Linked DNA regions of Homo sapiens. The main gene of each other region encodes a partner of the protein of the gene in region 2 in a complex. Each region holds a gene or a part of one and is shown on either strand. Other genes may lie near its edges.

Region 1 (7,024 bases), on a different chromosome or scaffold from region 2:
ACAGACGGGGTTTCACCATGTTAGACTGGTCGCGAACTCCTGACCTCAGGTGATCCACCTGCCTCGGCCTCCCAAAGTGCTGGGATTACAGGGCATGCACCTCCAAGCCCGGCCTACTTTTTTTTTTTTTTTTTTTTGAGACAGAATCTCACTCTGTTGCCCAGGCCAGAGTACAGGAGCCCAATCTTGGCTCACTGTAACCTCTGCCTCCCGGGTTCAAGCGATTCTACTGCCTCAGCCTCCAGAGTAGCTGGGATTACAGGCACGTGCCACCATGCTGGGCTAATTTTTGCATTTTTTAGTAGAGATGGCATTTCGTCATGTTGGCCAGGCTGGTCTTGAATTCCCGACCTCAGGTGATCCACCCGCCTCAGCCTCCCAAAGTGCTGGGATTACAGGCATGAGACACTGTATCCAACCGAAAATAAATTTTAAAAAGTAAAACAGGGCCAGGTGCAGTGGCTCATGCCTGTAATCCCAGCACTTTGGGAGGCTGAGGCGGGCAGATCACTTGAGGTCAGGAGTTCAAGACCAGTTTGGCTAACACGGTGAAACCCCGTCTCTACTAAAAATACAAAAATTAGCCGGGTATGTTGGCTCACACCTGTAATCCCAGCACTTTGGGAGGCCGAGGTGGGCAGATCATCTAAGGCTGGGAGTTCTAAACCAGCCTGACCAACATGGTGAAACCCCGTCTCTACTAAAAATACAAAAATTAGCTGGGCATGGTGGTGCATGCCTGTAATCCCAGCTATTCGGGAGGCTGAGGCAGGAGAATCGCTAGAATCCGGGAGGCGGAGGTTCCGGTGAGCCGAGATTGTGCCATCGCACTCCAGCCTGGGCAATGAAAGCGAAACTCCATCTCAAAAAAAAAAAAAAAAAAAAATTAGCCAGGTGTGGTGGCGCGTGCCTGTAATCCCAGCTATTCGGGAGGCTGAGGCAGGAGAATCACTTGAACCCAGGAGGTGGAGGTTGCAGTTAGCCGAGATTGCGCCACTGCAACCCAGCCTGGATGACAGAGTGAGACTGTCTCAAACAAATAAATAAAAAATAAATAAAAATCAAAAACAAAAACAGGCATTAACTGGCCGGGCACAGTGGCTCACGCCTGTAATCTCCACACTTTGGGAGGCTGAAGCAGGTGGATCACAAGGTCAGGAGTTCGAGACCATCCTGACCAACATGGTGAAACTCCGTCTCTACTAAAAATACAAAAAAATTAGCCAGGCGTGGTGGCGCTTGCCTGTAATCTCAGCTATTTAGGAGGCTGAGGCAGGACAATAGCTTGAACTCGGGAGGCAGGGGTTGCAGTAGGCCGAGATCACACCACTGCACTCCAGCTTGGGCGACAGAGCGAGACTCCATCTCAAAAAAAAAAAAAAAAAAAAACCCCACAAAAAACAGGCATTAACTGTGGGACAGTTTGAGAGAACAATAATAATTAACCCTTACTATTACCTACTATGTAGAAATTGTGTGCTATGAGTCACAAAGTAAATATGGAAAGTCCACCCCCCAGTGATTGGTTGTTGAAAATATTTAGTAATTCTATCAAAACACGATTGTATGGGTTAGAGTTCAATTTAAATAAACCCATCTAGGCAAGGTGCAGTGGCTCACGCCTGTAATCCCAACACTTTGGGAGGCCGAGGTGGGCAGATCACCTGAGGTCGGAAGTTTGAGACCAGCCCGACCAACATGCAGAAAACCCATTTCTACTAAAAATACAAAATTAGCCGGGCATGGTGGGGTATTCCTGTAATCCCAGCTACTCGGGAAGCTGAGGCAGGAGAATTGTTTGAACCCGGGAGGTGGAGGTTGCAGTGAGCCGAGATCACGCCATTGCACTCCAGCCTGGGCAACAAGAGCAAAACTCCATCTAAAAAATAAATAAGTAGGCCAGGCATGGTGGCTCATGCCTGTAATCCCAGCACTTTGGGAGGCCGAGGCAGGCGGATCACGAGGTCAGGATCGAGACCATCCTGGCTAACAGGGTGAAACCTCACCTCTACTAAAAAAAAAAATACAAAAAATTAGACAGGCATGGTGGCGGGTGCCTGTAGTCCCAGCTACTCCGGAGGCTGAAGCAGGAGAATAGCGCGAACCCGGGAGGTGGAGCTTGCAGTGAGCCGAGATCGCGCCACTGCACTCCAGCCTGGGCGACAGAGCAAGACTCCGTCTCAAATAAATAAATAAATAAATAAAAAAAACCACATCTATCCTCCCTCCTTTTTTTTTTTTTTTTTTTTTTTTTGAGATGGAGTCTCACTGTGTCGCCCAGGCTACAGTGCAGTGTCGCCCAGGCTACAGTGCAGTGGCGCAATCTTGGCTCACTGCCAGCTCCACCTCCTGGGCTCACACCATTCTCCTGTCTCAGCCTCCTGAGTAGCTGGGTCTACAGGCGCCTGCCACCACACCCGGCTAATTTTTTGTATTTTTAGTAGACATGGGGTTTCACCGTGTTAGCCAGGATGGTCTCAATCTCCTGAACTCATGATCTGCCCACCTCGGCCTCCCAAAGTGCTGGGATTACAGGCATGAGCCACTGCACCCGGCCTATCCTCCCTCCTTTTAAACTGTGGTTGACTGGCTGAGGATGACAAGCCCTAATTGCTTCCCTTTAACAACCTTGTACTTCAAACAGAAGTCTAGCTGCAACCCTATTATTGTATTGAGAGGGTCTAATTTTTCATAGGGTAGGAATTAAGGAGACCTTGGCAATAGTTGTAAGACCCTGGTATTCTCTGTGCATCTATTCCATTAACTGTTTTTTTTTTTTTAAAAAAACAAAACAAAGGTGAAGAGAAAGGGGAACAGAAGAAAAGGTAGCCTTCAAAACCTTTTTTTACCTCTGAAATGTTTAGTAATTTATTATTTAAGCAAAATACTGGAATCAAGAGGACTGGCCTGATGGCATAAAAGCCCTATACTGTGGTGCATGACTTCACTTAATGACTGGTTTTTCTACCTGGCTGTTTCTTTCCTCTCTGGCTTCTAAATGTATCTAAATGAGCTCATATTTCCCAGCCTAAATAAGCTAAAAAGGATCAATTATTTGCAGTCTGTGAGACTCGAGAGCAATAGAAATGCAAGATTTTTTTCCAGTGTGCAATTAGGATTGGTTAGTTGAGGCTCCAGCTGCTTTTGACTTATCAAAAAGGCAGTATAGGCCACATGTGGGACCCCACGTCTGTAATCCCAGAACTTTGGGAGGACAACATGGGAGGACTGTTTGAGGTTAGGAGTTGGAGACCAGCCTGGGCAACACAAAAAGATCCTGTCTCTAACAACAACAAAAGGTAGTATAGTGTATAGTACAGTGGTCAAGGATATGAACCATGGTAGCAGTATCTGGGTTTAAGTACCAACTGTGCCACTTTTCAGCTGTATTGAGCAAGCTACATAATCTCTTTATGCCTCAATTTTCTCATCTGAAAAAATTAAGTTAATAATGAAGTACAGGGTGGGCTTGGTGGCTCACACCTATAATTCTAGCAGTTTGGCAGGCTGAGCGGGAGGATCACTTGAACCTAGGAGTTTGAGACCAGCCTGGGCAACATAGTGAGATCTGGTCACTACAAATAAAAAAAAAAAAATCAAAAAATTTGCCAGGCGTGGTGGCATGCAGCTGTGGTCCCAGCTACTTGGGAGGTTAAGGCGGGAGGATCACTTGAGCCCAGGAGGTTGATACAGTAGTGAGATGTGATGGCACCACTGCACTCCAACGTGGGTGACAAAGCAAGACCCTGTCTCAGGGAAAAAAAAAAAATCAACATACTGCTCAATGCAGTGGAGCACATGTATAATCCCAGCTACTATGGGGTCTGAGGTGACGGAATGGCTTGAGCCTAGGAGTGCGAGGCTGTAGTACATTGTGATAGGCCTGTGGCTAGCCACCATGCTCCAGCCTGGAAAATAAAGCAAGACCCCATCTCTCAAAAAATACCAGTGTTTCATTTCACTCATCCTGCTGCTAACCCAACACACATATCCATGTGTGCTGGCACCATATAAGTGTTCTGTATGACTTCAGAGATTAACAGAAGAATGGTGGATTGGAAAAAAATGGTAACAAGTGGTCAGCAGGAGGCTGATGAGAGTTACTGTGGAAAACCCAAATCAAGAGGGCTGGATGCCATCTTTGGTCAGTTTCCACATCTGTAATTAGGAGTTGGCCCAGGCAAATTCTTTTTTTCTTTTTCTCTTTTTTGAGACAGAGTTTTGCTCTGTCACCCAGGCTCGAGCGCAGTGGCACGATCTTGGTTCACTGCAACCTCCGCCTCTGGCCAGACCAGGCAAATTCTAAAGTCCCTTTCAGCATTAAAAATCAGTGTAAAGGCCAGGTACAGTGGCTCACGCCTGTAATCCTAGAACTTTGGGAGGCCGAGGCAGGCGGATCACGAGGTCAGGAGTTCAAGACCAGCCTGACCAATATGGTGAAACCCTGTCTCTACTAAAAATACAAAAAATAGCCGGGCATTGTGGCGCGCGCTTATAGTCCCAGCTACTCGGGAGGCTGAGGTAGGAGAAGTGCTTGAACCCGTGAGGCGGAGGTTGCAGTGAGCCGAGATCACACCACTGCACTCCAGCCTGGGCGACAGAGCAAGACTCCGTCTCCAGAAAAAAGATTTTCTTTTTTTTATTTTTGCTCTCTTTACCCTCCCTGTCTGACTTAAATTAAGTCCATACACAGAAATTTCAAAGTCTGTCTGCCTCCAACACACCTGTTTCACAGTGCAGCCTGTAAACATTGCTGATATAGTGCCTACAAAATATTTTAGGGCTTTCCATAAAGAATCCCAACCAAAAGTAGTATGTCTTCGCCAGGTGTCATGGTTCATGCCTACAATCCCAGCACTTCGGGAGGCAGATGTAGGAGGATCACTTGCTGATAGGAGTTTAAGACCAGCCTGGGTAATGCAGTGAGACCCCATTCCTATTTTTTGTTTAATTATTATTATTATTTTTTTGGAGATGGAGTCTCGCTCTGTCGCTCAGGCTGGAGTGCAGTGGCACAATCTCGGCTCACTGCAACCTCTGCCTCCTGGGTTCAAGTGATTCTCCTGCCTCAGCCTCCTGAGTAGCTGGGATTACAGGCGTCTGCCACCACATCCAGCTAATTTTTGTATTTTATTTTATTTTATTTTATTTTATTTTTTGAGACAGAGTCTCACTCTTGTCACCCAGGCTGGAGTGCAAAGGGGCAATCTCAGTTCACCACAACCTCCGCCTCTCAGGTTCAAAGGATTCTCCTGCCTCAGCCTCCCGAGTAGCTGTGATTACAGGCATGCATCACCACGCCCAGCTAATTTTGTATTTTTAGTAGAGATGGGGTTTCTCCATGTTGGTCAGGCTGGTCTCGAACTCCCAACCTCAGGTGATCCGCCCACCTCGGCCTCCCAAAGTGCTGGGATTACAGGCATAAGCCACCGCGCCCGGCCTAATTTTTTTTTTTTTTTTTGAGACAGAGTCTCACTCTGTCACCCAGGCTGGAGTGGCGCAATATCGGCTCACTGCAGCCTCTGCCTCCCGGGTTCCAGCGATTGTCCTGCCTTAGCCTCCCAGGTAGCCGGGATTATAAGCACACGCCACTATGTCCAGCTGATTTTTATATTTTTAGTAGAGACGGGGTTTTACCATGTTGGCCAGGCTGGTCTCGAACTCCTGACCTCAGGTGATCTGCCCACATCAGCCTCCCAAAGTGCTAGGATTACAGGCATGAGCCACCTCACCTGGCCTATTTTTTTTTTTTTTTTTTTTTTGAGACAGAGCCTTGCTCTGTCACCCGGGCTGCAGTGCAGTGGCACAATCTCTGCTCACTGCAAGCTCCACCTCCCGGGTTCACGCCATTCTCCTGCCTCAGCCTCCCAAGTAGCTGCGACTATAGGCGCCCGTGCCCAGCTAATTTTTTTTGTATTGTTAGTAGAGACGGGGTTTCACCGTGGTCTCGATCTCCTGACCTCGTGATCCGCCCACCTCGGCCTCCCAAAGTGCTGGGATTACCGGCGTGAGCCACCACGCCCGGCTGGCCTATTTTAATTTTTTAAGACAGAATCTTGCTCTATTGCCCAGGCTGGAGTGCAGTGGTGTGATCTCGGCTCACTGCAACTTCCACCTCCCACCTTCTGGGAGGCCGAGGCAGGCAGATCATCTGAGGTCAGGAGTTCGAGACAAGCCTGGCCAACATGGTGAAACCCGTCTCTACTAAAAATACAAAAATTAGCCAGGCATGGTGGCGCATGCCTGTAATCCCAGCTACATGGGAGGCTGAGGCAGGAGAATCGCTTGAACCCGGGAGGTGAAAGTTGGAGTGAGCCAAGATTGCACCACTGCTCTCCAGCCTGGGTAACAAGAGTGAAAGAGCGAAACTCCGTCTCACAAAAAAAAAAAAAAAGGTAATATGTCCTTTTGTCCTTTGTTCCTATCGGCTCTAATTATAATGCAATGATTTTCTGATCGGGTATTTTGAAGTCCTATTATAATAAGTCAACGCTAGAGCCACAAATGAAATGAAGTACATTTTGCAAGTATAGGTAAGGATGTTAACTCAGGAATAAATTATCATTAATTAAACCATCAAGTACTTTGAAGTGGTGACATGGGCATCGGTATGCTTTCCCTTATAAGTTGGTATAAGTTAGTTTTGATCATTTATATATAATAGGCGCTTGCAAATAGTACAGGCTAACCCTGGGGAAAAAATAGTAGTTTTAACTAAGCCCAATTCCCCCAAACATCTAGTTCATGATATAATTAACTGGAAAATCAATCAAATTTAAGCCCTTGTTTTTCAAATTACTTTTTTTTTTTTTCAGACAGAGTCTCATTCTGTTGTCCAGGCTGGAGTACAGTGACACAATCTCGGCTCATTGAACCTCCACCTCCAGGATTCAAGTGATTCTCTCCCACCTCAGCCTCCAGAGTAGCTGGGACTACAGGCATGTGCCACCATGCCCAGCTAATTTTTGTATGTTTAGTAGAGACGGGGTTTTGCCATGTTGGCCAGGCGGGTCTCGAACTCCTG
Region 2 (7,898 bases):
TGAGCCACCGAGCCCGGCCTTCAATCACATCTGCACACATTTCTATTTACGGATTACAATGAGGTATGAATACAATGCTATGTATGAATACTTCATTTCTGGCAATGCTGCAAAAATTAGGCCTCATACAGACTAATTTGGCTAAAAGCTCTGCACTGGGTAATTCAATAAACATTTATTGTTAGCTCAGGATCACCTTTGATACCTTATACGGTATATGAGTTTTACTGCATGGATTTGTGACAACAGTTGCTGGGAGAAAGGAGGGGCTCAGGTTTCAGGTACATACACAGAGGCATAAACTTATCCATACCAAACATTTTACATATAGATATTATAAGTGCCTCAAGTGGCCGGGCACGGTGGCTCACGCCTGTAATCCCAGCACTTTGGGAGACCAAGGCGGGTGGATCACAAGGTCAGGAGATCGAGACCATCCTGGCTACCACGGTGAAACCCCGTCTCTAATAAAAATACAAAAAAAATTAGCCAGGCATGGTGGCACGTGCCTGTGGTCCCACCTACTCGGGAGGCTGAGGCAGGAGAATCGCTTGAACCTGGGAGGCGGAGGTTGCAGTGAGCCAAGATCACACCACTGCACTCCAGCCTGGCCGACAGAGCGAGACTCAGTCAAAAAAAAAAAAAAAAAAAAGCCTCATAACCACTCATTTAATAGAGAGAGAAAATTCAACATGAGAATGACCTGCCTCCTGACAATATTAATGTAAAAAAAAAATTTTTTTTTTGAGACAGAGTCTCGTTCTATCACCCAGGTTGGAGTGCAGTGGCGCAATCTTGGCTCACTGCAACCTCAGCCTCCCGGGGTCAAGTGATTCTCCTGCCTCAGCCCCCCAAGTAGCTGGGATTACAGGCATGCGCCACCACGCCCGGCTAATTTTTGTATTTCTAGTAGAAAGGGGGTTTCGCCATGTCGGCCAGCCTGGTCTCAAACTCCTGACCTCAGGTGATCCACCCGCCTCAGCCTCCCAAAGTGCTGAGATTCACAGGCATGAGCCACGACGCCCGGCCAATACGAAGGTAAAAAAAATTAAAAACTAAAAAAATAATGACAATCAGCATCACACAAGTAAATGCAGCAAAGACAAAAAGGTCTGTCCAATGCCCATGCCTAAACACATGGCTCTCAAGCTGCCATATGTCAATACTCCTTAGAAGCACTTATTCAAAAGTGAAGATTCCCAGATTCCACCTCTAGAGGACCTGATTCACTAAGTCTGAAGTGATGCCCAGGAACCTGCATCCTCCAAAGACTTAACACTGGTGGTACTCAGCCCATATATATTTTTAAAATTTCAGCCGGGTGCGGTGGCTCATGCCTGTAATCCCAGCACTTTGGGACGCAGAGGTGGGTGCATCACGAGGTCAGGAATTCAAGACCAGCCTGACCAATATGGCGAAACCCCATCTCTACTAAAAATATATTTTTAAAAATTAGCCGGGCGTGGTGGCGCGTGCCAGTAGTCCCACCTATTCGGGAGGCTGAGGCAGGAGAATCGCTTAAATCTGGGAGGCAGAGGTTGCAGTGAGCTAAGATCACGCCACTGTACTCCAGCCTGGGCGACAGAGCAAGACTCCGTCTCAAAAAAAGAAAAAAAGAAAAAGAAAAAAAATTCAACTTTTAGCTGAGATTCAGGGGGTACATGATGTGCAGGACTGTTACAAGGGTATATTGTATGGCGGCCGGGCGCGGTGTCTCACGCCTGTAATCCCAGCACTGTAGGAGGCCGAGGCAGGTGGATCATCTGAGGTCAGGATTTCGAGACCAGCCTGACCAACATGGTGAAAGCCCGCCTCTACTAAAAATACAAAAATTAGCCGGCCGTGGCAGTAGGAGCCTGTAGTCCCACCTACGCGGGAGGCTGAGGCAGGAGAATTGCTTGAACCCGGGAGGCGGAGGTTGCAGTGAGCCAAGATTGCGCCACTGCACTCCAACCTGGGCAACAGAGCAAGTTTCCGTCTCAAAAAAAAAAAAAATCTATAAAGTATTTATCAACACATCTTTTAAGAGGAACTAAAGAAATAAAGAGAAAATAAAGTACTTACAGTACTTAAAGTACGCTAGTACGAAACTGTACAAACACTGTTAGTGTCATGCGGACCTGCCCAAGGCTCAAAAGCCCAAATGAAAGGAAAGGGACCAAGAGCGTGAAGATCCCGCCTCTCCGCGCTCACCTTCCCCATACATCCCTCTGCTCAACAGCTCTCCTCAGCTTCTCACTGGAACTGACAGCTCGGAAGGGGGTTTGACTGCGCAGCCCGCGCACTAGAGAAAGGGGCGGGCATGTGGCCCTAGAGGCGGGCCCAGGAAATTCAAAACAAGCCCGCAGAGGTGCAGGCCTGCCAGCCCCTGCCTTACCGGCTTGCTCCCCTTCGCGGCGGCCGTACCTACCCGGGACCCCACGGCTCACCTTTACCCGGAGCCGCAGGACCTGAGGCTGAACCTGAGACGACCGTGGCCCCCGAAGCGCCAGTGCCCGGAGGGTCGGGGGCCGCAGGGCCAGGGGCCGAGGCGGTCACCCGGCTGAGAAGCGCGCTGGTCACCTCAGCGCCGGCGCTGTCCACCTCTCCCGGGGCTCCGGAGCCCGCCACTGCCTCCTCCAGCAGCCCGGCCTCACGGCGCAGCGCCTCTTCGGCCTCGCGGAGTTTGCTCTGCCGTAGGAACTGCAGCACGGCCAGTAGAGTCTGTCGGTCATGCGGAGCGCCGGCGTCCGGAGCAGCGGCGGGCACCGGGGCCGCCCCCGCCGGGGCAGCGGCGGAGACAGCCACCGTGGGCTTGGGGGTCCCGCCATCCCCGCCAGTGGACGACGACGCCGCAACGTTCCCGCCGCCGCCGTTGGGGCCGTTGTTGGTAGTGCCGCCGCTACCCTCGCCTGCGCCGTCCCCCGCCTGCGGAGGTAGCAGCGTTGGCGGTCCCTCAGGCTCTAGCTTGACCGCCACCTCCGTCTGCTCCTCCGCCAGCGCCGCCATCTTGCGGCTGAGCCACCTCGCGCCGTCAAGCGTGATTGCATTTTCGCCACATGGAGGGCGGGGAGGAGCATTTCACGACAACTCTAGTAGGCCATTTACGGCAGTAGGAGGAGCGAAAAGGAAGGAGAAACGGAATAGGAAAGAGAGCAACTTTCAAAACCGAGCGAAAGAAAGGCAGGAAGTGGGCATTGGTGACCACCTATTACATTTGCCTGAGAATAATTGCCATTTATTGCAGGCCAGCTATATTTAGGCATTATGATAGATGTTTTACATTATGTGATCTCCTTCAATTCAATAATCTTTTTCTTTTTTCTTTTTTTTTTTTTTGAGACGGAGTTTCGCTCTTGTCGCCCAGGCTGTTAAGCGATTCTCCTGCCTCAGCCTCCCCAGTAGCTAGGATTACAGGCATGCGCCACCACGCCCTGCTACAATTAAATAATCTTATGAGGTAATATTATCCCCACCTCGCAGATGGCTCAGTTGAAACCAAGAGAGGTTAAATAACTTACCAGAGGCAAGAAGAAAGTCCAAATGTCAACATTCGAATCCACGTATTTAACTCAAAAACATATACCATTTGCCAGAGGGAGGCTTCCGAGATACTGGTAGTTTTACATTTTGACCTGAATAGTGCTTACTTTTTTTTTTTTTTTGTCATTTTTACTTTTGTAAAAGTTAATCGAGCTGCATGCATTACATTACATTTATTTATTTATTTAACTTTTGAGACGGAGTGTCGCTCTGTCGCCCAGGCTGGAGTGCAGTGGCCCGATCTCAGCTCACTGCAATCTCTGCCTCCTGGGTTCAAGCGATTCTCCTGCCTGAGCCTCCCGAGTAGCTGGGATTACAGACGTGTGCCACCACGCCCGGCTAATTTTTGTATTTTCAGTAGAGACAGGGTTTCGCCATGTTGGCGAGGCTGGTCTCCAACTCCTGACCTCAGGTGATCCACCGGCCTCAGCCTCCCAAAGTGCTGGGATTACAGGCGTGAACCACTGCGCCTGGCCCGTATACATTACATTTCAATAAAAAGTTTTTAACGCCAGGTGCGGTGGCTCACGCCTGTAACCCCAGCACTTTGGGAGGCCGAGGCGGGCGGATCATGAGATCAGGAATTAGAGACCAGCCTGACCAACACGGCAAAACCCCGCCTCTACTAAAAATACAAAAAATTAGCCAGGCATGGTGGTGCGCCCCTGTAATCCCAGCTACTCGGGAGGCTGAGACAGAAGAAGAGCTTGAACCCGGGAGACGGAGGTTGCAGTGAGCCGAGATCCCGCCACTGCACTCCAGCCTGCGCGACAGTACGAGACTCCGTCTCAAAAAAAAAGTTTTTAAATACCAGAATGTTGTGGTTGTGAAATATGTACGTTATGTATTCATGCTATTATCCGTTATTACAAATAAACCATTTTAATTGTATATTTAAAAATCATGGCCACACGCAGTGGCACATACCTGTAGTCCCAGCACTTTGGGAGGCCGAGGCGGGTGGATCACCCGAGGTCAGGAGTTCGAGACCAGCCTAGCTAACATGATGAAACGCCATCTCTACTAAAAATATAAAAATTTAGCCAGGTGTGGTGGCGGGCACCTGTAATCCCAGCTACTCGGGAGGCTGAAACAGAGGAATCACCTGAACCCAGGAGGCGGAGGTTGCAGTGAGCCGAGATCGCACCATTGCACTTCAGCCTGGGCAGCAAGAACAAAACTCCGTCTCAGGAAAAAAAAAAAAAAAAAAAAAAATCATATATGCCATTTTGCAATGTGCTTCATAGGTTATAAAACCCTCCTGCATATTTTATCTCATTGGAAACTTGTAACTCTGTGGAATAGGTACAGACGAGAAAAGTGAGCCTGAGACATTGGGAAAATCTAGCACAGCCGTTCAAGTTATTGGTTTTGAGGTCTTACCAGCGTCCTTTGACCCTGCTTACTTTTAAAAAATATTTTATTTTATTAATTAGAGATCTGAAGCCTTACTATATTGCCTAGGCTGGCCTTGAACTCCTGGGCTCAAGCAGTCTCTCACCTCAGCCTCCCAAGTAGCTGAGACTACAGGCACAGACCACCTGGCTTGACCTTGCTTACTGGCTGAATAACCTGGAGCAAGTTACTTAATTTACTATGTCCCAGTTGCCTAATTTTTTTTTTTTTTTTTTGAAACGGAGTTTCACTCTTGTTGCCCAGGCTGGAGTGCAATGGCGCCATGTCGGCTCACTGCAACCTCCACCACTCAGGTTTAAGCAATTATTCTGCCTCAGCCTCCCGAGTAGCTGGGATTACAGGCATGTGCCACATCAGGCCCAGCTAATTTTGTATTTTTAGTAGAGACAGGGTTTCTCCATGTTGGTTAGGCTGGTCTCGATCTCCCGAACTTAGGTGGTCCACCTGCCTCGGCCTCCCACAGTGCTGGGATTACAGGCGTGAGCCACCACGCCTGGCCCCAGTTGCCCAATTTCTAACAAAAAAATAATAGTAGTTACGTCATAGTGTTTTGAGAATTAAATGAGGTAATGCATATGCAATACCTAGTATGTAATAAATAACCATTGGTTATTTCTACTTCACTTTAAAAGGTGTTCTGTAAATGTTTGATTAAGAAAGTGCAAGCATAATGTTCAAAAGTGATCCCGAGACTGAAATGCAAAGCTAATCTAGGGATAGGGGTGGCGGCTCATGCCTGTAATCCCAGCACTTTAGGAGCTGAGATGAAGGTTGCAGTGAGCCGAGATTGTGCCATTGCACTCCAGCCTGGGCCACAGAGCGAGACTCCAGCTCAAAAAAATAAATAAATAAATAAATAAAATAAAATACTGAGTGTGACCCATTAAATTGATCTTAACTGAATTAATTTTTTTTCTTTTTTTTTTTTTCTTTTTTTTTGAGACGGAGTCTCACTCTGTCGCCCAGGCTGGAGTGCAGTGGCCGGATCTCAGCTCACTGCAAGCTCCACCTCCTGGATTTAGGCCATTCTCCTGCCTCAGCCTCCCGAGTAGCTGAGACTACAGGCGCCCACCACCATGCCTGGCTAATTTTTTGTATTTTCAGTAGAGATAGGGTTTCACCGTGTTAGCCAGGATGGTCTCGATCTCCTGACCTCGTGATCCGCCCGCCTCGGCCTCCCAAAGTGCTGGGATTACTGGCGTGAGCCACCGCGCCCGGCCTGAATTAATTTTTTTTCAATCTCAGCTCACTGCAAATTCCACCTCCCAGGTTCAAGTGATTCTCATGCCTCAGCCTCCCGAGTAGCTGGGATTACAGGTGTGCACTACCATGCCCAACTAATTTTTATATTTTTAGTAGAGATGCGGTTTTGTCATGTTGGCCAGGCTGGTCTCAACCTCCTGACCTTAAGTGATCTTCCCGCCTCAGCCTCCCAAACTCCTGGGATTACAGGAATGAGCCACCGCACCTGGTTAACCCTGTGTTTAAAAAATAATAATAGTAATAATTCTATAACCCCTCACACTTTCTTTTTCTTTTTTTTTTTTTTGAGACGGAGTCTTGCTCTGTCGCCCAGGCTGGAGTGCAGTGGTGTGATCTCGGCTCACTGCAACCTCCGCCTCCCAGGTTCAAGCAATTCTCCTGCCTCAGCTTCCCAAGTAGCTGGGACTACAGTCGTGCACCATCATACCTAGCTAATTTTTGTATTTTTAGTAGAGACAGGGTTTCACCATGCTAGCCAGGCTGGTCTCAAACTCCTGACCTCGTGATCCACCTGCCTCGGCCTCCAAAAGTGCTGGGATTACAGGCGTGAGCCACTGCGCCCGGCATAACCCCTCACACTTTCACACACTAGTTTTAGCATCCATTGCTGAATTTTTTTTTTTTGCGTCAGTTATTAATACCATGGTTACCAATTGGTGCTTTTCTAATTTCATCATTTCTCCTACACTTATTAGTTGGTTTTCTAATGGAAGGAAGAAATTTTCCATCTCTTGGTTGGGCACAGTGGCTCACGCCTGTAATCCCTGTACTTTGGGAGGCTGAGGCCGGGGTGGGGGTCACTTGATGTCAGGAGTTTGAGAATAGCCTGGCTAACATGGTGAAACCCCATCGCTACTAAAAAAAAAAAAAAAAAAAAGCCTGGCATGGTGGCTCACGCCAGTAATCCCAGCTACTTGGGAGGCTGAGAGGAGAATCATTTGAACCCAAGAGGCGAGGTTGCAGTGAGCCGCCATCATGCCACTGCACTCCAGCCTGGGTGACAGAGGAGACTCTGTCTCAAAAAAAATAATAATTTTCTGTCTCCCTATTTATTTATTCACACAGTTACTATCAACATTTTTATTTTGATATTGTCACAAATTTGATCATTAGGATCTCCTTCAAACTGGCTCCTGTATTTCTTTGACATGGCCACATAATTGTTTGAGCACTTCCTTCTTAATTTCTAGCACAATGAGACATTCTACACTCCCTTTATATTGTCCCAGGCTAGAGTACAGTGGCACATTCATGGCTCACAGCAGCCTCGACCTCCCTGGGCTCAGGTGATCCTCCCACCTCAGCCTCCCAGGTAGCTGAGACCACAGGCATGTGCCACCATGCCTGGCTAACTTTTGTGTTTTTTGTAGAGATGGGGTTTTGACACGTTGCCCAAGCTGGTCTCAAACTCCTGAGCTCAAGTGATCCACCTACCTTGGCCTCCCAAAGTGCTGGGAATACAGGCATGAGCCACCGTGCCTGGCAAGTTCCTTTTATTGGTATTAGAAACCAAGACCAGAGTGTGAGGTATGTAATTGCTTCTAGGCCCTCTCAGCAGATAGTGCTGAGAAATGTACATACATCTACATGTACATATCTATCTATATCCATTTATCTTTATCCTTAAGTTCACCTTAAATGTCTCCAATTCTAATCTAGTAAAGCAGAATTTATTCTATCCATTCCCTTTTCTGTAT
Region 3 (7,028 bases), on a different chromosome or scaffold from region 2:
ATTACAGACGTGAGCCACTGCACCCAGCTGTTCACCACCTTCTTACTTTGTTCAGGGCCTTAGTCCAAAGCCCAAGCCCCAACTCACTTGCTACTCTCCCTCAACACCTGTTGCAGGATCCATTATTACCTGTGGCTTACAGTCAAAGAAGCCTCTCTACTGCTGTAAAGGCAAGAGGAAAACTAATGGAGGTATGTTCTTCTGCCCTAAATTAAAACACTAATTACATTTGCTCACTTAAAAAGCAATTTATAGGCCGGGTGCAGTGGCTCACGCCTGTAATCCCAGCACTTTGGGAGGCCGAGGCAGGCGGATCACAAGGTCAGGAGATCGAGATCATCCTGGCTAACACAGTGAAACCCCGTCTCTACAAAAAATACAAAAAAAGCTCTCCCTCCCCCTCCCCCTCGTCTGCGTCTCCCGCTTTCCACCGTCTCCCTCTGTTGCCGAGGCTGGACTGTACTGCAGCGATCTGGGATCGTTGCAGCCTCCCTGCCTGACTACAGGCGTGCGCCGCCACGCCTGACTGGTTTTTGTATTTTTTGGTGGAGACGGGGTTTCGCCGTGTTGGCCGGGCTGGTCTCCGCTCCTGACCTCGAGTGATCTGCCCGCCTCGGCCTCCCGAGGTGCCGGGATTCCAGACGGAGTCTCGCTCACTCAGTGCTCAATGCTGCCCAGGCTGGAGTGCAGTGGCGTGATCTCGGCTCGCTACAACCTCCACCTCCCAGCTGCCTGCCTTGGCCTCCCAAAGTGCTGAGATTGCAGCCTCTGCCCGGCTGCCACCCCGTCTAGGAATTGAGGAGCGTCTCTGCCTGGCTGCCCATCCCCTGGGATGTGGGGAAGCACCTCTGCCCGGCCGCCCCGTCTGGGATGTGAGGAGCGCCTCTGCTCGGCCGCTACTCCGTCTGGGAGGTGAGGAGCACCGCTGCCCGGCCGCCACCCCGTCTGGGAGGTGAGGAGCGCCTCTGCCCGGCCACGACCCCGTCTGGGAACTGAGGAGCGCCTCCGCCAGGCCGCCCGCATCTGGGAAGTAAGGAGCCCCTCTGCCCTGCCGCCACCCTGTCTGGGAGGTGTACCCAACAGTTCATTGAGAACGGGCCATGATGACGATGGCGGTTTTGTCGAATAGAAAACGGGGAAATGTGGGGAAAAGAAAGAGAGATCAGATTGTTACTGTGTCTGTGTAGAAAGAAGTAGACATAGGAGACTCCATTTTGTTCTGTACTAAGAAAAATTCTTCTGCCTTGGGATGCTATTAATCTATAACCTTACCCCCAACCCCGTGCTCTCTGAAACATGTGCTGTGTCCCCTCAGGGTTAAATGGATTAAGGGCGGTGCAAGATGTGCTTTGTTAAACAGATGCTTGAAGGCAGCATGCTCGTTAAGAGTCATCACCACTCCCTAATCTCAAGTACCCAGGGACACAAAACACTGAGGAAGGCCGCAGGGTCCTCTGCCTAGGAAAACCAGAGACCCTTGTTCACATGTTTATCTGCTGACCTTCTCTCCACTATTGTCCTATGACCCCGCCAAATACCCCTCTCTGAGAAACACCCAAGAATGATCAATAAATACTAAAAAAATTAAAAAAATAAAATAAAGCAAAATAAAAACACACAAAAAAAATTAGGTGGGCGTGGTGGCCGGCGCCAGTAGTCCCAGCTACTCAGGAGGCTGAGGCAGGAGAATGGCATGAACCCGGGAGGCGGAGCTTGCAGTGAGCAGAGATTGCGCCACTGCACTCCAGCCTGGGCGACAGAGCGAGACTCCGTCTCAAAAAAAAAAAAAAAGCAATTTATACACACACACACAATTGGGGTTAGGATTGGTACTATCTGATTCAAAAGTTAAACAGAATTTGATAGGCTAGTCTGAGAATATTATCCCTACAGGGAAACATTCAAAGCAATAAAGCTACTTTGAAAGGACATGTCCAAAAGTTTTCATCATCTATAACAAAATCATTGTCAAATACTACTTACATTCTTTAGAAAAAAGTCTCTTTCTTTTACCCTGTCCACCTTCTGCACCTCCTCCAATTTCTTCATTTTCTTCCTCAAACTAGAAGTTAAAATGTATATATAGAAATGTCAAATAATTGCCTTGCATTTGATATTTTAATAATGACATTTTTTTTTCCTTTTCAACAGATAGGCCAGAAAGCCAAAGGAAGCAGCAAAAAAAAAAACCACGAAACCTTAGCATTGAAGGAGCCTATGTATCTAGTCCAACTTCCAACTCATGCAAAAATGGCTTCTACAATGTTCCTAACTAATAATCCTACTGCTTCTACTTGTAAGAGTTCCAATGACCATAAGTTTTATTTTTAAACAACTAAGGTGGCCTATTACTACTGTTACTGTTAAACAGTTGATACTGAATCAAAGTCTACCTTTGTAGACTTTGTAGTAAGCAAAACTAATATTTCCTATGCATTTGCTTATACAGTGCTAAAAACGTTCCTTAAGTAAGCCCGTAACCCTATTTTATAAAAAGAAAACTGATGTTCAAAGTTAAATAACTTGCTCAGAGAGAATGGAAATTTTGAAATCCAGGCTGTCTGACTTTCAATGCATTCTTTTCCCATTACTTCACAGTAAGTACAGTTTTGTTAACAATTGAACTGTTGGCTCATAGTGCGCGCTAATAGATGTTAGTTTTGATCTCTGATGATTCTGTACGTGTTTCAGTGTCTGGCAAATACAGACCAAAATCAAGGGGAAAGGGGTCACAAAACCTACTCTTCCTTCATGTCCTTCCCCACTTTCTAAAATGATCAATCCTTAGGGCGTGAAGTCCCCGAACTCTGTCCGCTGAATTCACTAAGGCAAGCAGACCCGATCCTGAACTCTGCCTCCGCTACTGAGCCCGAAGGAGTGAAGAAAAGACAGGTTTTGGACAGAGACGGTCACTCACCGTGGGGTCTTCTTCCTCATCTGCCATCCCACTAGCACGCCAACTCACAGCGTCCTGCCGGCTGGCTCCCAGCTGGTTACACTACTTCCGCCGCCTCACTTCCGGTGACGCGCGGGGCCGTAGCTGGGCCTAGCCCTCTGCGGCCTGCGGGAGGACGGTGGTGCTTTCCGGCCTAGCGGCGGAAATGCGACAGTCTCTAAGGGAGGAGGCCGGAGCGCCTCCCTGTAATCCCGAAGGAATTGAAAACTAACAAAGAAAAGGAAATCACGGGCTAGGTCGCGAGTATCTCGTTGTCACCCTGAATTTGCTACTGCGTATTGAATCACAGCTTCTTGTTTGGGGACTGCGAAGCTATGGATCATAGGAGGGCAAGCCAGCAGTCCTTTATCAGACAAATATGCTTTTAAATCATTTTAAAGATTTGTAGTTCCACTGTTTCTAAGCACTGTGTTAATTATTGGGGATACTGTGCTTCATCACAAATTTCCAAGAGATGGTGTCCCGAGACTAAGCATTTAAAATTTTGTGAAGGTTTTTTGATTTTTTTTTTTTTTTTTTTTGAGACGAAGTCTCACTCTGTCGCCCAGGCTGAAGTGTGCAGTGGCGCGATCCCGGCCCACTGCAACCTCTGCCTCCCGGGCTCAAGTGATTCTCCTTCCTCAGCCTCCCGAGTAGCTGGGATTACAGGCGTGCGCCACCATGCCCGGCCTTATTTTTGTTTTTTTGAGACACAACCTCACTGTCCCCCGGGATGGAGTGAAGTGGCGCAATCAGGGTTCACTGCAGCCTAGACCTGCTGGGCTCAAGCCATCCTCCCACCTCAGCCTCCAAGTAGCTGGGATTACAGGCGCACACCACCAATGCCCAGCTAATTTTTGTATTTTTAGTAGAGATGGGGTTTCCCCACATTGCCCAGGCTGGTCTGGAACTCATGGCCTCAAGCGATCTGCCCCGCTCTGCCTCCCAAAGTGCTGGGATTACAAGTGTGAGCCACCGTGTCCACCGGGGAAGGCTTTTGGTCAGAACAATGGCTGGCAAAACCACAGGCATCGGAAGGCCAGAGCTAGGGATATAATATAAATGTCCCTACAGTGTAACAGATGATGCTACATAAAGAAAATCCCGTAATACACACGATTTCTGAATGTCCTGCTGAACATTCGGTGAGTGAAAACTAATTATCTGAGAGTTGAACCTATCTTTGTTAATAAACACAAAGCGGCCGGGCGCAGTGGCTCACGCCTGTAATCCCAGCACTTTGGGAGGCCGAGGTGGGCGGATCACAAAGTCAGGAGATCAAGACCATCCTGGCCAACATGATGAAACCCCGTCTCTATTAAAAGTACAAAAATTAGCTGGGCGTAGTGGCGCACGCCTGTAATCCCAGCTACTCGGGAGGCTGAGGCAGGAGAATCGCTTGAACCCGGGAGGCAGAGGTTGCAGTGAGCCGGGATTGTGCCACTGCACTCCAGCCTGGTGACAGAGCGGGACTCCACCTCAAAAAATAAAAATTAAAAAAATAAACACAAAGCATTTTCCCACACTTTTAATGTACGTTGAAGTTTCTAGGAATGTTATTACCCCAAAATTGAATAGTAATTGTATTTTGTTTGGTCTGGAATTCATTAAGAGCTGTGTACCATTTCAAGAAATAACGTCACCAAAAGCAACATCACTTGTAATAATTTGAATAGTGAATAATGAAAAAATAACTTTGATTTGAGGAATGTGAGTTAAATTATTAGGCCCAAAGAGGCATTAAAATGAGAGGCAATCACATCCTGCTTGCCCCCTTTTGAGCTATGTATTTATGTCTTAAAACCGCTTGCTATTGCCACAAGTATTAGTTATAAATTAGCCTAATTATGCCCCATCAGACACCATATCGCACACCCTATAGCTTGATAATGTTTAGCCAATTACTAATCAATGTTATTTTTGTGAACCAATGAGAACTCCTTAAAGACAACTTTGTATCAGCCCACTCCCTGTCCTCATTCTTTTCCTTTAAAAATCCACTTGTACCTGCTGCTAATCTTAGAGTGTATATTCTAGGCAACTTTATGCTGCTGAGTTGTAATCCTCAAGTTTGGCCCAAATAAACTCTCTATTTATATTAATTTTGCCTCAGCTTCTTCCTTTTAGGTCGACAATACTCACCCAAATCAGTCTGCATTCAAAGCAATTCTACATATAGGTAGAAGCATCTGAAATCTTCATTATCCCCCCCTAGTGCCATCATACCTGAGTATTTATATATTGAAACAAATGTTACTATTTTTACTTTACTTTTATATTACCTTTATGCCTGACCTCCTGGCCACTGGATCACTGGATCCTGTTAGGATATTATGTTATTTTCAAAATTATGTGAGTAGGTAGATATATTAGTTATTTATTGCTGTAACAAATTACCCCAAAACTTAGTGGCTTAAAACAAATATCACACAGTTTCTGTGGGTCAGCAATGTGGGTGCAATTTAACTGGGTGCCTGTGGCTCAAGGTCCCTCCTGTTGCAGTCGGGATGTTGGCTGGGGCTGCAGTCATACCTCAAGTGTTGATGGAGGAGAATTTGCCAGAGTCACTCACAGGTTGCTGGAGGTTTCACTTCCTCCAGGTTGTTGGACTAAGGGCCTCAGTTCTTTAATGGATGTTGCCCAGAGGTCTCCCTCAGTTCCTTGCCATGTAATCCACTCCATAGGGCAGCTCACAATGTGCCAGTTGCCTTCCTCCAGAGGACACAAGTGGGAGAACCCAAAAGACAGAAATCACAGGTTTTTTGTTACCTAATTTTGGAAGTGACATCCTATAATTTCTGCCCTATTCTATTCACTAGAAGTAAGTAAAAAAGTGCAGCTAGGGCTGGGCGCAGTGGCTCACACCTGTAATCCCAGCACTTTGGGAGGCCGAGGTGGGCGGATCAGGAGGTCAGGAGTTTGAGACCAGCCTGGCCAACATGGTGAAACCCTGTCTCTACTAAAAATACAAAAATTAGCCGGGTGTGGTGATGCACACCTGTAATCCTAGCTACTCAGGAGGCTGAGACAGGAGAATTGCTTGAACCCGGGAGGCGGAGGTTGCAGTGAGCTGAGATGGTGCCACTGCACTCCAGCCTGGCCGACAAAGCAAGACTCCATCTCAGAAAAAAAAAAAAAAAGTGCAGCCCAAGTTCAAGGAGAGGGGATTACATAAGGGCAAGAATATTGCTGGGGAGATCACTGGGGGCTTTCTGAGAGGTCACCTACCACAGTAAATTATATTATTTTTGAATTTCACTACACAATAATGGAGACACTGTATTTGTTATTAATATTTAAAGGAGATTGTTGAGCCTGATAGGTTTGAGAACTGCTTTTAGGTAGTGATCCAGTGTCCAGGAGGTCAGGCATAAAACATTCATAGTGTCTGTTATCAGTGGAGTAGATAGGTAAAATATGCTGGATGCACAGCACGGAGTACAATGCAGCAATCAGAAGCAATAGATTTAGCAACATGGACAGAACTTGAAAACAGTGCTAAGTTAAAAAAGAAACAATAAAATCTATAATATAATACCATTTATAGAAATTAAAAATACTACTTATTTTAAAGGAAAATATAAAAAAGCGTAAACATTAAACACACTAGAAAGTTGCAGTGTAGGAGAAATGGGAATAAGGATAAAAGGAATAAATTGATAAATAAAAAGTGAAGGACTTTGGAAGGGCCAATTGTAATACTATGCCATGAGCTGCGGCATGTGAATAATTCAATCCTGTGAACCTGAGATCCAAAACACAAAGTGGGGGAAAAAAAATTGCAGTGTCAGTCCAGGCGTGGTGGCTCACGCCTATAATCCCTGCACTTTGGGAGGCCGAGGCGGGCGGATCACGAGGTCAGGAGATTGAGACCATCCTGGCTAACACAGTGAAACCCTGTCTCTACTAAAAAAAATACAAAAAATTAGCCGGGCGTGGTGTCGGGCGCCTGTAGTTCCACCTACTTGGGAGGCTGAGGCAGGAGAATGGCATGAACCCGGGAGGCGGAGCTTGCAGTGAGCCGAGATCGCGCCGCTGTACTCCAGCCTGGGCAACAGAGCAAGCCTCCGTCTCAAAAAAAAAAAAAATTGCA
Region 4 (7,024 bases), about 96 Mb from region 2:
TCTTGGATAAAACACACTGGGTACCAGCCATCAGAACTGTAACAGTCCAAGCAAAAATATGCATGTATAAAATATTTTCAAAGAGGTCTCACTTCTAAACATATAATCAGATAAAGCAGGCAATAACTCCTTCCACATCATCTCCTCATCTGTCATCTTCACACTGCGGATAATCACACAGCTCCTCAGTCAAGTACCTATCCAGCCCAGCTAGTAAGTCTGTTCCCTCAGATCCTCAGCACGTGATGGTAACACTACTTTACATTGATTCGTCTCTTTTTTTCAGAGACAGGGTCCTGCTATGTTGCCCAGGCTGAAGTGCAGTGGGCATTCACAGGCTCAATCATTGCGCACTACAGCCTCAAACTCCTGGGCTCAAGCGATCTTCCTGCCTTGGCCTTCCAAGTAGCTAGGACTATGGGTGTGCCACTGAATGCAGCTTGACACCGATTCCCCTTATAGCGTGACTTCACTAATGTATATTGTATTTCAATTCAAAAGTAAATTATTTAAGAGCAAGAAAAGAAAAAGGGGACGAGAACTAATATTCGCTGTCATGTGTTTTATTTTTTTTTGAGACAGGGTCTCGCTGTCACTCAGGCTGGAGTGCTGTGGTGTGATCATAGCTCACTGCAGCCTTGACCCCTGGGCTCAACTGATCCTCCCACCACAGACTCTGATAGCTGGGACTACAAGCGTGCACCACCATGCCCAGCTAAGTTTTTGTTTTTGTTTTTTTTTTTTTTTTTGAGACAGAGTCTCGCTCCGTCACCCAGGCTGGAGTACAGTGGCACAATCTCGGCTCACTGCAAGCTCCACCTCCTCTGTTCACGCCATTCTCCTGCCTCAGCCTCCCGAGTAGCTGGGACTACAGGCACCCGCCACCACGCCCAGCTAATATTTGTATCTTTAGTAGAGACGGGGTTTCACTGTGTTAGCCAGGATGGTCTCGATCTCCTGACCTCGTGATCCGCCCGTCTCCGCCTCCCAAAGTGCTGGGATTACAGGCGTGAGCCACTGCGCCCAGCCAAGTTTTTTATTTTTAGTAGAGATGAGGTCTCATGACGTTGCCCAGGCTGGTATCAAACTCCTGGGCTCAAGCTTCAGCCTCCCAAAGTGCATAAGCCATCACACCTGGCCCACTGTTATGTATTTTATATGTTAAACACTGTCCAATTTTATATAAATGTGTTAACAAAAAAAAATTACTTGATTCTCCATTTCCCCAATGTGGTAGGTGTTATTACACTTATTTTACAGATGAATATAAAGTTCAGAAAGGTAAAGTGACTTGGGAAGACCAGAAACTCAGTGACTCGCTGAGTCATGTCTCAGTGATGCCGTGAGGTCCACGCTGTGCCTCTCACAGCCTGCTGCCCCTTCAGGCCTTCTATGTGTGCACACTCGCCAGCTCCAGCTGCTGTGGAGGGAGACTTTCACAGGCTTTTTTGACATGAACCAAGCTGAGTGGCTGATAAGAGGGAACCCCATGGAAGGACCTTGCTAATAATATTTTAAGACCAAAGTCTGGCCTGTCTGTGGCTCTTAAGGAAATAAAAGGAAAATAAAGAGCATGGTGAACAGCATCATTATCAAAGGGGTTCACCTCTGTACCTCACTTTGCACCACTAATCAGAATACCAGGAACTTTCTAACATGCTGTACCCATGAAAAAAAAATATTTCAGATTGTAAATGACAAGAAATGGTCTTGTATGGTTATATTTTTAAATGGTAACCAAAGAATTGCATTTTATATCCTTTTCTTATGAAGAGGAGAACGTTTTGACAAGCATCTTACTGTACTGCCTACCACTTACTGCATCCTTATAAACCATATGCATATATTACAAATCAGCAATATTTTTCCTTCTTAATCCACATGTGTTAGATAAAAAGTGAAAAGTAGTGTTCTCAAGATTTGTTATTTTCCTTTTAAAATGTTTATAATTTATATTGTTTGCATAAAACTAAATGAGTTTCTTTTTTTGCTTCAAATAACCCAGAAAAGAAACCCAAAAATCTATAGTAATATAGTAATTTCAGCCAGAAGTCAGTATCAAAACAACACAAAACAAAACAAAAAAAACACTAAATTGTTTTTCATACTTCTTCACTACCTAATCTAAACCTGTTATCTTAGTTACATTTCCTTGCTAGTATTTAAATATGATAACCATAGCACTTTAAGAGAATTTTATTATGGAATATTTGCATGCTATAAAAATAAGACAAGAAGGACCAAATAGTTAAGTGTAGATTATGATCAAAGTCCTAGTTTTGGTTCTGGGCTGTCGGTGTGTTAGTATCATTCAGTAGAACCCACTGCAGCTAAGATCCAGAGCACCTAAATGATGAGCCACCAATTCACAACAAATCCCTACCACTTAGGTCCAGTAGCTGTCCAGTTTTTCAGATGAGGCAACCCTGACACACAGACTGTACAACAACTTATGCCAAATTTAAACATACTTCCTGAGACAAATAGGTAACACTTCAAAATGCTATTAAAGTAGAACCGATTCTAAGAAATGAATTGCAAGAAATTGGAACCCTTGGGCACTGCTGATAGGAAGCTTAGATGGTACAGCCACTGTGGAAAACAGTGTGGTGCTTCCTCAAAAATTAAATAGACAATTACTATATGATCCAGCAATTCTACTTCAAGGTACAGACCCAAAAAAAAACACCTGAAAGCAAGAATTTGAACAGAGATTTGCACATCGATGTTCATAGCGGCATTAATCACAAGAGCCAAAAGGTTGAAACAACCCAAATGTCCATCAGTGAGTGAATGGATAAACAAATGTGGAATGTACATATATTATTCTGCCTTAAACACACAACGAAACACACAACGAAATCCCGACACAGGCTACAACATGAATGAACCCTGAAGACATCATACTAAGTGAAGTAAGCCAGTCATAAAAAGACAAATAATGTCCAAGTCCATTTATAAAAGGTACCTAGAATAGACAAATTCAGAGAGACAAAAAAAGGAATGGTGGTTGCCAGGGGCTGGAAGTGGTGGAGAATGGGGAGTTATGTTTAATGGGAACAGTGTTTCAATTTGGGAGGGAACAAAAGTTCTGGAGAAGGATGGGGATGATGGCTGAATAACAATGTATACTTAATGCCACAGAACTGCACACCTTTACAATGGTCCATTTATGTTATGTATATTTTACAATAGAAAATCATAAGTAAAAGTAATTGCTGGCATCATTTGCATTGTCCTGAAGTATACAGGTTTTAGAATTTTTTACAAAATGAAAGAACTTATTGCAACTTTTCCAACTCTTATAAGAAAAAATATCGTGTACTTGTGTTAGAGACCAGAAATTACTTAAATATCTCCTTAGAATCTTAGTGAACTTAGTGATCAACATCTAAAATTATGCAGGAAAAAAGGGAACTCTGCAATTGGACTGACCATTATACCTGATTAGCTATCATTTTATAATCAAAAGTTCTATATGATCAAACAATAAACATTGCTCCTCATGATAAAAAACAGAAGTCTACACAATGTCACTGAATACTCACGATTCACTCACTGTTTCCAGTATAAAGCCATGGCATTCAACTCATGGCCTGAATAATAAGCGAGGAGGAAAAGAGCTACCCCAATTTTTCTTTTTGTTTCAAATGTTTTCTAATTTACCTAATATCCCATTCTCATATAATAGGGCTGTTGAAAGGCTTCTCTTTGGCTTCACTGTTTTCCTCTACTTGAACTTTACAAAGGAGATAAATGCTTCAGACATGACCTTGATTACACCGTGACTCGGCTTGGTAATGTCAGTTGCAAGTTTGTTGGTTTAAGGGTTAGAATAATTTGTAAGTAACAGTAAATGTTTCTATTGTGTTTCCAGAATTTATAAAGTTGACATAGCATGGAAAGCTAAGAGGATTAAAAATCCATTAAAATAATCACTAACATATGAAGAAGAAACACTCACAAACCTTCTTGAGAAGACACAATGGGTGGCAGGTAATCAGGAATGTATTCTTTTCTTTCCTCTGCATCTTTACTTCCAGGTTGAGGAAACTGAAGTACATTGTTCTTGCTAACAGGAAATGACGGAATTTGGTGTGGGAAGGTGACAGGCTCAATGTTGTGAATATAGTCTTCTAGTTCATGTAGACTAACCCCCATCAGCTGGAAAGCTTCACCAACATCATCCAAAATTGGGTCTGTTCGGCCATCTGAAACAAAGTGAAAAGCAAATCAAATTATTTGAAGAAATCCCACGAATATATTTTTAAATATTAAGAAAAAGTAGTAAGTAAATATGCAGCTCAGAATCAAACATTTTAACCTAGTTATTGGAAAGAATTTAATAGATTTTAAAGAGTATCACAGAATCATGTTTAAGCTGATTATTAAAGTCAAGTTTAAATATAATCAGACAACTAGCCAGAACACCACAGAAAAACCACATTCATGATTAGCTATTATAGAACAAATTTCAAAGTAGTTTACAGATGATCAAAAGCATCTGGAACAGCACCTGACACACAGAAAATGCCCCAAAAATAATAATAATAAAATAGTGTTTTGTCTTTTTTTTTTTTTTTAAGAGATGGCATCTTAGCTGGGCGCGATGGCTCACGCCTGTAATCCCAGCACTGAGAGGCCGAGGTGGGCGGATCACAAGGTCAAGGGTTCGAGACCAACCTGGTCAACACGGTGAAACCCCGTCTCTACTAAAAATACAAAAATTAGCCGGGCGTGGTGGCGCAGGCCTGTAATCCCAGCTACTCAGGGGACTGAGGCAGGAGAACTGCTCAAACCCAGGAGGCGGAGGTTGCAGTGAGCCGAGATCGTGCCACTACACTCTAGCCTGGGCAACAGAGCAAGACTCCATCTCAGAAAAAAAAAAAAAAAAGAGATGGCATCTTGCTTGTTGCCCAGGCTGAAGTGCAGTGGTATGATCACAGCTCCTTGCTGCCTCAAACTTCTAGGCTCAAGCGATCTTCCCCTCTCAGTCTCCTGAGTAGCTGGGACTATAAGCACATGCCACCATGCCTGGGTAATTTTTTTTTTTTTAATTTTGTAGAGATGAGTTCTTGCTATGTTGCTCAGGCTGGTTTTGAACTCCTGGCCTCAATCAATCCTCCTGCCTCTGCCTCCCAAAGTGGTGGGATAACAGGCATGAGCCAATGTGCCTGGCCTTTTTTTTTTTTTTAATCATCAAATAAGTAGTGTGCTGTGCTGACAAAGTCAATGTTGGTTACATTTCCTCTGTTGTTCCCTGATGCATCTGCAGAATCTTAAACAGTGGCTGGCACATAGCTGGCACTCAATAAATACCTATTGAATGAATTATACCATTAAATCAATTTTTAAAATCTAAGAATATTTACAAAGAAGGCTTAGATCATAAAAGTTTGGTTTTTGTTCGTTTTTTGAGACAGGGTCTCACTCTGCTGCCCAGGCTGGAGTGCAGAAGGGCAATCATGGCTCACTGCAACCTTACCTTCCCAGGCTCAAGCCATCCTCCTACCTTCACCTTCTGAGTAGCTGGGACTACCAGTGCACCACCAACATGCCTAGCCATAAAGATAATTTATCTATAAATTTTCAAATGTAATTAGAAAACACCACATAAAACAGAGATAAAAAGTTAGATATAGAGATTTTTTTCTTTACAAAAGCAAGTTTTTCTTATGCCTATTCTTAGCAGAGCTTAAGGTCTCTACATCTTTAAAAATGTCTATGAAAATTCCATTTTCTGATTTTCAATAGCCTAAAGGATTTAACTGAAATCCTGACTTTTTAACTGAAATCCTGAAATTTGATCACTTCAAACTCAGTATGTCTGAAATTAAATCACACTGTAAAATGAAAAAGAATCCAAATATTGCTAGAATTGGACGCATGTGTAGTAATGCATACAGAAACCTCTGGAAGGATATTCAGCCAATGGTTAACAGTTCGAGGGGTGGAAGCTGCAGTAGAGGCGAGGGCTGTGGTGGAAGCAGGAGACTGACTTCTAACTCCACATACTTCTGCAGTCTTTGATTTTTTTTTTCTATAAGTATGGGTTACTTCTGTGATGCATTAAAAAAAGAAAATAAATAAAACGAATACTCTTCTTCTTACTGAATGTAAACAGGCATTTCATCTCTTCTATTCCTATTAAAGCTATTATTACTCTCTCAGTCTAAAAAATATAATAATCTTAAATTCCTCCATATGCTTTGCAGCCTCAAACCAAAACCTGGTAGTTTCTAACCCTGTCCCCGTCCCCTTCGGCCACCTTTTTTTTTTTTTTTTAACCATGATTTCAGATTTTTTTCCTTTCTCTCTATTCTTACTGTCACTATCTCAGTATAGTCTCAAGTTCTGCCCACTTCAATCTCTTATGCACATCACTGTCAGTACAATTTTCTTAAAATACCACTTTAATCATACTATTCCCCTACTTAGGAGTATGCAATGTTTTCTACTACATGTTTTAATTCTTTTGTCTAGCTTTCAAGTCCTTCCATAACCTGATCTCACTCTGTTGAACATTTTACTCAGACACCCTTGGAATGAACTAGCTGCATAGGGAGCTGAACACCTTACTGGTACTTTTATTATGCTTAATCTCACCTGGACAGCTTAGTTTATGTGATTCTCTAAGCTGGAATACTCTATACCTTTATACAACCATACTTCACAGCTCAACTCAAATCTTATCTTTTCTGTGAAGTAATCCTACCCCAGAATCTATAGCCTACAGCCATCTCTCCTCTTATCCCTTTTACATTTACTCCCTGTACCATGCAAAAAAATATTACAGTACTAGTGTTGAAGAGTCAGTCTGAAAGATTTAGCACCTGCTTTCAGTACATGCCAACATATTTAACATATAATGTGACACCGACAGAGACATCTGCCCTTGAATGCTTGGAGACATTGTTACCCTAAGGCAATTCTTAAGTTCATTATTTGTTCATTATTTGAATTAATGGTAACTTCTAATACTTGCTTTAACTTGAGAACATTTCTTTTAGAAGAAACAAACACC

The links.
Region 1: TAF5 (region 2) and TAF12 share a complex: the UniProt entries of both Homo sapiens proteins name them as parts of the TFIID basal transcription factor complex.
Region 3: TAF5 (region 2) and TAF13 share a complex: the UniProt entries of both Homo sapiens proteins name them as parts of the TFIID basal transcription factor complex.
Region 4: TAF5 (region 2) and TAF3 share a complex: the UniProt entries of both Homo sapiens proteins name them as parts of the TFIID basal transcription factor complex.

The regions. Positions count from the first base shown.
Region 1 is NC_000001.11:28,633,048-28,640,071, forward strand, and holds part of TAF12 (transcription initiation factor TFIID subunit 12), read right to left. Parts: intron 1-7,024. UniProt on the Homo sapiens protein: The TFIID basal transcription factor complex plays a major role in the initiation of RNA polymerase II (Pol II)-dependent transcription.
Region 2 is NC_000010.11:103,363,080-103,370,977, reverse strand, and holds the start of TAF5 (transcription initiation factor TFIID subunit 5), read right to left. Parts: upstream 3,003-7,898; 5' UTR 2,989-3,002; coding exon 2,430-2,988; intron 1-2,429. UniProt on the Homo sapiens protein: The TFIID basal transcription factor complex plays a major role in the initiation of RNA polymerase II (Pol II)-dependent transcription.
Region 3 is NC_000001.11:109,073,004-109,080,031, forward strand, and holds the start of TAF13 (transcription initiation factor TFIID subunit 13), read right to left. Parts: upstream 3,001-7,028; 5' UTR 2,945-3,000; coding exon 2,918-2,944; intron 2,063-2,917; coding exon 1,984-2,062; intron 1-1,983. UniProt on the Homo sapiens protein: The TFIID basal transcription factor complex plays a major role in the initiation of RNA polymerase II (Pol II)-dependent transcription.
Region 4 is NC_000010.11:7,821,505-7,828,528, reverse strand, and holds part of TAF3 (transcription initiation factor TFIID subunit 3), read right to left. Parts: intron 4,212-7,024; coding exon 3,969-4,211; intron 1-3,968. UniProt on the Homo sapiens protein: The TFIID basal transcription factor complex plays a major role in the initiation of RNA polymerase II (Pol II)-dependent transcription.